2 separate regions of the Homo sapiens genome follow, and region 1 is reported to be linked to region 2. Evidence: microRNA targets listed by miRTarBase, many of them from high-throughput screens and not tested one by one. Region 2 holds a microRNA gene; the other region holds the end of a gene's coding sequence.
The links. Region 2 holds the annotated microRNA hsa-miR-3153 (GGGGAAAGCGAGUAGGGACAUUU, at 2,902-2,924, shown strand). A microRNA usually pairs through its seed, bases 2 to 8, with sites in the 3' UTR of a target mRNA and lowers its output. Matches are read on the target gene's strand: a 7mer-m8 pairs with bases 2 to 8, a 7mer-A1 pairs with bases 2 to 7 and ends in A, and an 8mer does both.

Region 1 (4,065 bases), not on the chromosome of region 2:
GTTCCCGGGTAACTTGAGTCACAGAACCTTACATTCATTCCATCCAGATCCTTGTACCCTAGCCCAATTCCTCCGGTTCCCCCAGTTCCCAGGATTCGGGCCTCAAAGGATAAGGAGGTAGGCGGGGAGTGAGGTTGGGGCTCAACCTGAGTGTGGGTGAAGCAGACTGGGATGGGAACCCCAAGATGCCCAATGGTAGAGTGGGACAGCCGACCTCCCACCATGCCCCCAGATTGATAGTTTCGGGACCCGCAGCAGGAGAGGGCCGCTGCAGGGCGTCTGGGCTTCTGGGGGCAGAGAAGACTCACGCAGTGAGCAGTCCGCAAGCCCGCTGGCGGCAGCGGCGGTGCTCCGTCCAGGGCGAGAAGCTGCAGCGCTCGGGCCGGGGTCCCTCCTGTCGCAGCAGCTCCTCGACGAGTGCAGGGGCAGCCACGTACACGGTGCGCACTGTCCCAAAGCTGGCTAGCCACACCGGCCCGAAGTGCGCGGCGCCCTGCACCTGGGGGAGCGGACACAGCGGACACTTGGATACCTGGGCGGGGACTTTCAGCTTGACCTGTGCCCACGCCAAGGGCGTTGACTGGGCTTGGGAATAGGGAGCTTCTGCTCTTTCTCGGGTGCCCAACTAGTGTATGCCTTTGATACTGCAAACTCCTCCTCTCTCATTTCCCATCCCTAGAAAGTTTGAGTGTGATGGGCAAAACCGGAACTTTGTGCAAGGCAGACATTCAGGACCTCTCTGATCATCTCGGTCGAGGAGAAATCTCTAAAAGTTCCATGTCTGGACTGTCCATCTCAGGACGAGTCCTCAGTGAATGAAAAGGAACCCATGTAGCTTTAAGCCGCAAGCAGGCGGAGGGTACTGCCCACTCCGGCCTCCCCCTCCCGCGCACTTGTACTTTATCTGCAGGATCTCCACACCTCAGGACAGCGAGAAGGCGCTTTCGCAGCGCCCTCTGCTAAGAGTCGGGACGGGCTCTGCCCGAGTGTAGCCACACCGCCCCCAGCCTCAACTCGCCTTTTCCTTATTTCATGGGCATCCGTTCTCTCTGGCTGTCCCACATTTGCTCTGCACTAGTCAGTCCTTTCTGACGCTGTCAAAACCAGTTTCCCCAGCACTCTGTCTCGGGAAAGGCGTCCCTTCCTACCTGCAGCTCGTGTAGCCTCGACAGCCCCCCCTTGCAGAAAAGTTCGGCCAGAAAGCTGGGCGTAGAGGGGCCTGGGATGTCTGCCAAGCTCCGGCGTGCTGAGTGGTACTCTCGGTAGCCTAGGGAGGCGCCCAACTCGGGCGCCCAGCGGACGCGATGGAACACTCTGGAGGCGTACTTGAGGGTCTGGGTCATGGTCTGGTTCAGGGTGCTCGCGAAAGAAAGCGCTTCTCCTGAGCATCATATCTCAACCCCTATTTAACCTTTGGGTGAGGTGATGACGCCCCCTCTCCAAGCTCCTCAGCCAATCCCTCCTCCTGAGTGGTCTGTGCTGGGGATTAGCACCCAGGAACAGTAGGCGGGGCTGGGGCTGACTTCACAACTCCCTTGGGTCTCATGTTGCAATGACCCTCATGGGAGGGAGGGCCTAAGATTTTCCTCCTGGGAGAGTGCCTTTGTCTAGGAGCCTCAAAGTCTCATCCTAGGAAAGGCTATAAGGCTTTTTAGTAGGGACTAGGTGACCAAGCTACACTAGTCAGTCTCTGATATTCCCACTTCTACCAGTGAGCCCAGCCCCTTTAGGCCCATCCTCAGGAATTCCCCATCTTTCAGCTCCTCCAGGAAGGGAAGCAGGGGAGGCACAGCTGTAACTGTCCCCACATTCTTGGCTTAGTGGGTTGTATCTTCTCTGCATTATTTTCCTGCACTAGCCACACCTCCCCCTCCTCCTGTACCTAACATATACTGGGCAGATGGCAGGTGGGTTAATGGGCTAAAATGGCTCCTAGAACCTCCATCTTTCTTTCTTGAGGATAAGGGGGTCTCTTGGGTATACAAGCCCCCTCCTTCCAGACATGGGAATTTGGGGCTTGAGAAGCAGAAATGAAACTTTTTGTACATTAGTTAAGTTCAGAGATTGTCTGTGGGGTGTTAGAGGAGCTAAATGGATGTGGATGTTCTAATTCCCCAGCTGACTCGGTCTCCTCTGGGGGGCTTTCTGGTTAGCAGCTCCTTTCTACTTTTAGCCTCAGAATCCTGTGGTGGCTCATGCCTATAATCCCAGCACTTTGGGAGGCTGAGGCAGGAGGATGGCATGAGGCCAGGAGGTTGAGACAAGCTTGAGCAACATAGCAAGACTGTCTCTACAGAAGAAGTTTAAAAATTAGGCTGGGCACGGCAGCTCATGACTGTAATCCCAACACTTTGGGAGGCTAAGGTGGGCAGACTGCTTGAGCTCAGGAGTCTGAGACCAGCCTGGGCAACATAGTGGAACTGTCTCTACAAAAAATACAAAAATTAGCCAGGCATGGTGGCGTATGCCTGTAGTGCCTTGAGAGGCTGAGGTGGATTACATGAGCCCGGGAGGTCAAGGCTGCAGTGAGTTATGATTGTACCACTGCACTCCAGCCTAGGCAACAGAGAGAGGGCCTGTCTCTAAAAAAAATTAAAATAAAAGAATCTCCCACAGTTTACCTCTCTGCTCCTTACTCCCTCATTCCCCACTGCAACTCTATCAGGCTCTGTGCCAGTCAGCTAGCTCTGAAGTTCTGGAATTGAAGGTCAATGTGAAAAAGGAGAGGGTCTCCACCCCCACACCTTCCCAAGGACTCTCCAGAGACAACACTTAGGGAACACAGATTCCCCAGGTCAAGTCTTACGCAGGGAGAGGACAGGAGGATGGTAGAAGGCATATGATACATACTCCACCCTTTCCTGAGAAATGGCAGAATAGGCATGTGTACACATATACATGTTATCCCAGGATCCACAAAGCAAACAGAAGTGGTAATTGAGCCTAGCAAGCAGTTTAGATGGACTACATTCCTCATTCCAGCTGAGGAGAGATCTCACAAGGAGAAAGGAGTGCTAAGGAAGAGCAAGACCCCACAGCCTTCCAAAGATCCCCTATGGTCCAAAGTCCTTTGACCATCTCAGTCAGCTGCTTTGTTTTCTGTTGGCAGTGGAGGGACAAGGTGAGAGGAGCCAGGGGTAGTCATGAACACCAGTGGGTTCTGCCCTGGGCAGCTCCCCACCTTCTTTAAGAGAGTACTGTGTCTCAGCTCCAGCAGTCTCAACTGGGAAGACCCAGGACTCCTGCTCTTTTCTCTAATCCCTGGGAGACGAGGTCCAGCTAAGGTAGAGTAAGCAGTCAGTGACCAGGCAGGCTGGTTTGGGAGGTCACTGCCTGGAGGACGGGATCTTGTATTCTTCGGAAGATGGCTGGGAAATTCTTCCCTCCATTACGTAGAACTTTCTTCCCCTCCTCAGTTGAGGTGCCTAGATGTCCCACAACGGGGTCTTCACTCTGGGAGAAGGAAGGGTCCAATAAGTCCTTGCCCACTGTTCAGACTGCCCCTGGCCCTTAGACACCTATCCCATCCTCCTGGCACTGAGTTAAGTCCAAATACAGAACCACTCTGGAAAGGGCCTCCACCTCCTCTAGGTCCCCTACTCACCAGGTCCTCCAGAGGCACACGCTCAAACAGTGGGTGCTCTTCGAAATGAGTGCACATCCAGTCGTGTAGCTCCAGCACATCGGTTATGGTATACACCAGCCCCTGCATAGGCAAAATCACCCTAGACAGGAGGCTGCATGCAACGTCAGCAGCCAGATGAAGGAAGTGGTGGTGTGAGTCCCTAAATGCACCCCCACTGAATTCTTAGTGAAGGGCCCCTGAGTAGGCCACTCACCCCATCATCCCTCCGATCCCAACTCACCCCAACTCTTAGCACGTAGGCATATTCTGCTAGCAGGGTGGGACTGATGATTCGCCACTTGTGCTTTGTCCGCTTGAAATGTGGGTCGGGGAAGAGGAAGAACATCTTTGTCAGCTGTGAGACAGACACACACCAACAGGGTTGTGAGAGCCTGGCCTCCATGCCCCCACCTGCCTACCAGCCTAACCCACCAGGGCCC
Region 2 (4,065 bases):
CTGTTTAAGATGAAGGTGCTCTGGTTCACTTGCCTCTGACGATCCCAGCACTTTGCGAGGCCAAGGCGGGCAGTTCACTTGAGGTCAGGAGTTCGAGACCAGCCTGGCCAAAATGATGAAAACCCGTTTCTACTAAAAATACAAAAACTAGCTGGGCCTGTAATCCCAGCTGCTCTGGAGGCTGAGGCAGAATGGCTTGAACCTGGGAGGGGGAGGTCGCAGTGAGCCAAGATCACACCACTGCACTCCAGCCTGAGCAGCAGAGTGAGACTGTCTCCAAAAAAAAAAAAGGGCGGGGGGTGGAATTCCAAACACCCTCTTCCCCCAAGAAGTGATTGTATTAGGAAGTTAGGAGGTGGGGCCTTCGGGAGGTAATCAAGATTAGATGGTCATGAGGGTGGGGCCCTCACCCATGGAGATTATAAATGTCCTTAGCCGGCCTGTCTCACTTGTTCAGAAACCGGAAAAGTCCGTGGTCTGCAGTGTGGAAAAGGGCACCCGGACCTCTTACTTCCAGCCTCTAGTCTGGAAACTTTGTCTAAGGTACCCCATCTACATTACTTAGTCACAGCCACCCTGAACCCACTAGCCTGTACTGCGCTGGAGCATTTCGCATAAAATGAAATTAACATAAAAATGACACGTGCTCGTTGTGGAAAAAATACCAAAAAGATCACTTTTAATTCTGTCATCTAAAAATAACCACCAGTTACATTTATAAATTTCTTCCAGTAACTTTTTTATATGAACATGTTTTTAAACTTGGGTCAATATTAAAAGACCAGAAGTTGTTAAACATCATTTTAAATCCCCTTATCCAGGAATTAGCATTGTTATTCTTGGCCGCAGCAGAATATTATTTTATTCCCTCAAGCTTTCCATGGCTTGGGTCTGCCCTGGTTTTGAACATTAGGTTAGGCTACAGAAAGCATTCTGGGTCTCTGGCCCATTTGTTTCTTTCTTTGTGGAGACGGGGTCTGGCTCTGTTGCTCAGGCCTGTCTGGAACTCCTGGGCTCAAGCGACACTCCACCTCGGCCTCCCGAGTGGCTGGGACCACTGGCGCCCGCCGCCACCGCGCCGGCTCCGGGCCTCTCTCTACGCGTGGCTCCGCAGGCTCCATTCTCCACACAGTCGTCTAGGGGGGCGCCAGGAGCCCCGCGACGGGCCAGGCCGGAAGCTCAGCAAGTGCACCAGGCGGCGAAACGGCCGGCTGCGCAGGGCAGCCCCGGACACAGCCACGCCGCGGCCGCCCGGCGCTCCCCCGACCCAGCCGACCACGAAGCCGCCCTCCCCCTCACACCGCAGAACCTTTCTGCCTTTTACTACTTTTCAAAGTGGACCTAGGCTCCTGGCTCGAGCCTGAGGGGATACAAGGGATCACGAGGAGCGCCATCACCGTGCAAGGTCGACAGCTTCCGCTCAAAGCCCTGTGGCCCACGCTTCCGGCCTCGACCGACTACGTCATCACCAAACCCCGTGATACCTCACTCCACCTTCAGGTCCTCCGTCCCAACGGTTCCGTGTCCTGGAACTTTCCACGTTCCTGCGCACGCGCTCTGCGGCCCTTAACGTCCCGACTTCGCCCTCCTCTGGCCACGCCCCTGCCCGTTAAGGGCCCTGCCACCCCCGTGACGTACCTATCTTCCCTCGGGCAACCTCGCAACAGATCTCTGATTGGCTGACCCAGGAAGCGGACTTTGCGAGGCGGCGGCGACGATAGGCTGGCAGCCGGCCGACTTCCGCAGAAGGTGATTGGTCGGCGCTGCTGTCCAATCGGCGGCGGGCTGTCGGATTCAAATCCGGATCGTTGGGACTGCGGTCGTTAGTCTCCGGCGAGTTGTTGCCTGGGCTGGACGTGGTTTTGTCTGCTGCGCCCGCTCTTCGCGCTCTCGTTTCATTTTCTGCAGCGCGCCAGCAGGATGGCCCACAAGCAGATCTACTACTCGGACAAGTACTTCGACGAACACTACGAGTACCGGTGGGCGCCTTTCTTAGACCCCGAGCCGGCTCCCTCAGCCGGGGCCCCCGCGGGCGGGGCGACCCAGGCATAGTAGGGTCGGGGGTGGGGGCCGGGGCCTGGGGGGCGGAGCCCGGGGCCGGAGGGCGAGGGCCGGGGTTTGGGGTCGCGGCCACCTGGCGCCCCGCGCAGTCGGACATGGTTGGGTGCCTGGCCGCGCCGGGCCGGTTGGGCCTTTGTTCGGTGTGCGCGGAGGGTGAGGGAAGAGTGCCCACCGGGCCGCATTTAGTACCTGGGTAGGAACCGGCGCAACTTGGGGGTCATGGGGTCCTCGGCGACGCGGAGTGACCATCCCGTCACTTTTTTCTCGGCCGTGGCCGAAGTAATTAGGCCGTTCAGTAGCTGGTCTCAGTTCCAGTTCTTTGAACCAGTCCAGGAAAACCCACCTGGTGCCGTCCTTTTTCCTTTAGCAACCGTGACACACTTTCCCTGTCGCTGACGGGGTGATGCAGCTTTTACTAGTTTGTGGTTTAGAATGGTCAAATGGTCATTTTCATCTGTTAACACAGAGGAACACTTTTCTTTTTCTTGTTTTTGAAGTGAGTGGTATAAGAATAAGCTTTGGAGGCGACCCCCCGAAAAATGAGCTTGATGGGGATTCGAAAATGTTTACTGGGTATGGTGATTTGGGCCATTATAGGTTAGCCGCAGTCATACAATTGAGGGTATTATTAAAGGAGTTTCATTTTAAGGCCGATTAAGAACTTGAGTGGACTTTGGGCATCATTTTCTGCTAGTATACACTGGCCAAATTTTGGGCTTTGAGAAACTTTTGCGTTTGAGTCCTGAAGCACCGTACTAGAACATGGTGGCTGTAATCGATCAGTAAAATTAGACAAATTTTAAATGTCCCTGTCCCCTTCCCCCCAATTAAAGTAGATTGGGGGAAAGCGAGTAGGGACATTTAAAATTTGTTGTCCTTACTGTATGCGGGACACTTCATTTAGGGCGTGGCTTCAGAAAACAGTCAACCCCTTTTTCTTAACTAGGTAGCGACTAGAACGCTGCGTTCTGGGATACTACCAAGATTTAGGGGAGATAAAGCCCATGCCATCGTTGGCCAAATTGTGACCTTGTTTTCTGTCTGCTGCCTTTGTAGGTTAGATTTCTCCGAATGCTATTTAAGGAAGAAAGAACAAAACAGTGGGTGGTTTCTCTTTTTCTCCCCCTCCCTAGTAGCATGGAAGTCTGTTTTCACATGAGGACTACTGAATATTTCTATGGGTAGTAGTAATTGCACCCTTTTGTATTCCTAGCTAGAAAAATAGCATGTTTTTCTGGCTGTAGGTAAATTTCAAGTAGATTGTGTTAACCTTATAGTAATAATAAACTATACTCGTGTAATATGCTGGCAGTGTTCAATTATGCGATGTTAATCAAGAGCCCTATTGAGGATATCCAATAATGAACACAATGTAAACCGTAATAATCTTACTAAAACCTAGAAAATTATTCTGAAACACATCTGGTGCCAAGTGTTTAGGATAAGGATTTAAGGGTCGGTACAAGTTTCTTTTAGGGTATAATATTGAAAATAAATGAAGCTATTTCTCAGACTTCTTTCTGATGGCAGTAGGTCGATTTTTTAGTTTTAATATACTCAAATGATTTGTGTGTGGTAATGTATAGAAGAAAGTTTACATATCTGAAGTGATGTATTTTAATCCAATAAAAATTAGAGCTGGTATTAATTGGCCAAGCCAGTAACCTTTATGAAACAGGATAGTAATTTCCACACATAATTTTAAAGGGGAAACTAGTAATAATATAGCACTAAGGCATGAGTCTAGGGTGGTTTGTATTAATATGTAATGGTGCAGCATGCAATGTAAATTTCAAAGGCTAGTATTTATTTTTCCCAGTGTGCAGTTATCTCTATCTTTCTTTGATTTTTCTTAATTACAAACTTAATTTCCTAGTCCTTTTACGTGAGGGTCTTAATGTTTCTAAGGGCATAACAGTGGGTGCCCCCACCCCCACATCATGGAAGTCTGTTTTCACAAGAGAAAAACTGTTAATTTTTCTGGGCAGCCTTACAAATTAGTAA

Region 1: the mRNA of METTL1 is a reported target of hsa-miR-3153. The part of its 3' UTR that is shown has no 7-base or 8-base seed match.

Annotation. Positions count from the first base shown.
Region 1 is chr12:57,765,699-57,769,763 of GRCh38, forward strand. It overlaps METTL1 (methyltransferase 1, tRNA methylguanosine), which reads right to left. Exons shown (of 6, transcript NM_005371.6): 4 at 3,867-3,980; 5 at 3,605-3,706; 6 at 2,773-3,453. The coding sequence ends at 3,298. CYP27B1 (cytochrome P450 family 27 subfamily B member 1) reads right to left here and starts at 1,380. Exons shown (of 9, transcript NM_000785.4): 1 at 1,149-1,380; 2 at 309-499. The coding sequence starts at 1,343.
Region 2 is chr9:89,309,373-89,313,437 of GRCh38, forward strand. It overlaps MIR3153 (microRNA 3153), which reads left to right and starts at 2,853; the gene lies at 2,853-2,934. It overlaps CKS2 (CDC28 protein kinase regulatory subunit 2), which reads left to right and starts at 1,823. Exons shown (of 3, transcript NM_001827.3): 1 at 1,823-1,979. The coding sequence starts at 1,921. It overlaps LOC105376136 (a long non-coding RNA gene), which reads right to left and starts at 1,430. Exons shown (of 3, transcript XR_930101.4): 1 at 1-1,430. RefSeq lists a silencer at 1,129-1,358 and enhancers at 1,369-1,658, 2,329-2,378.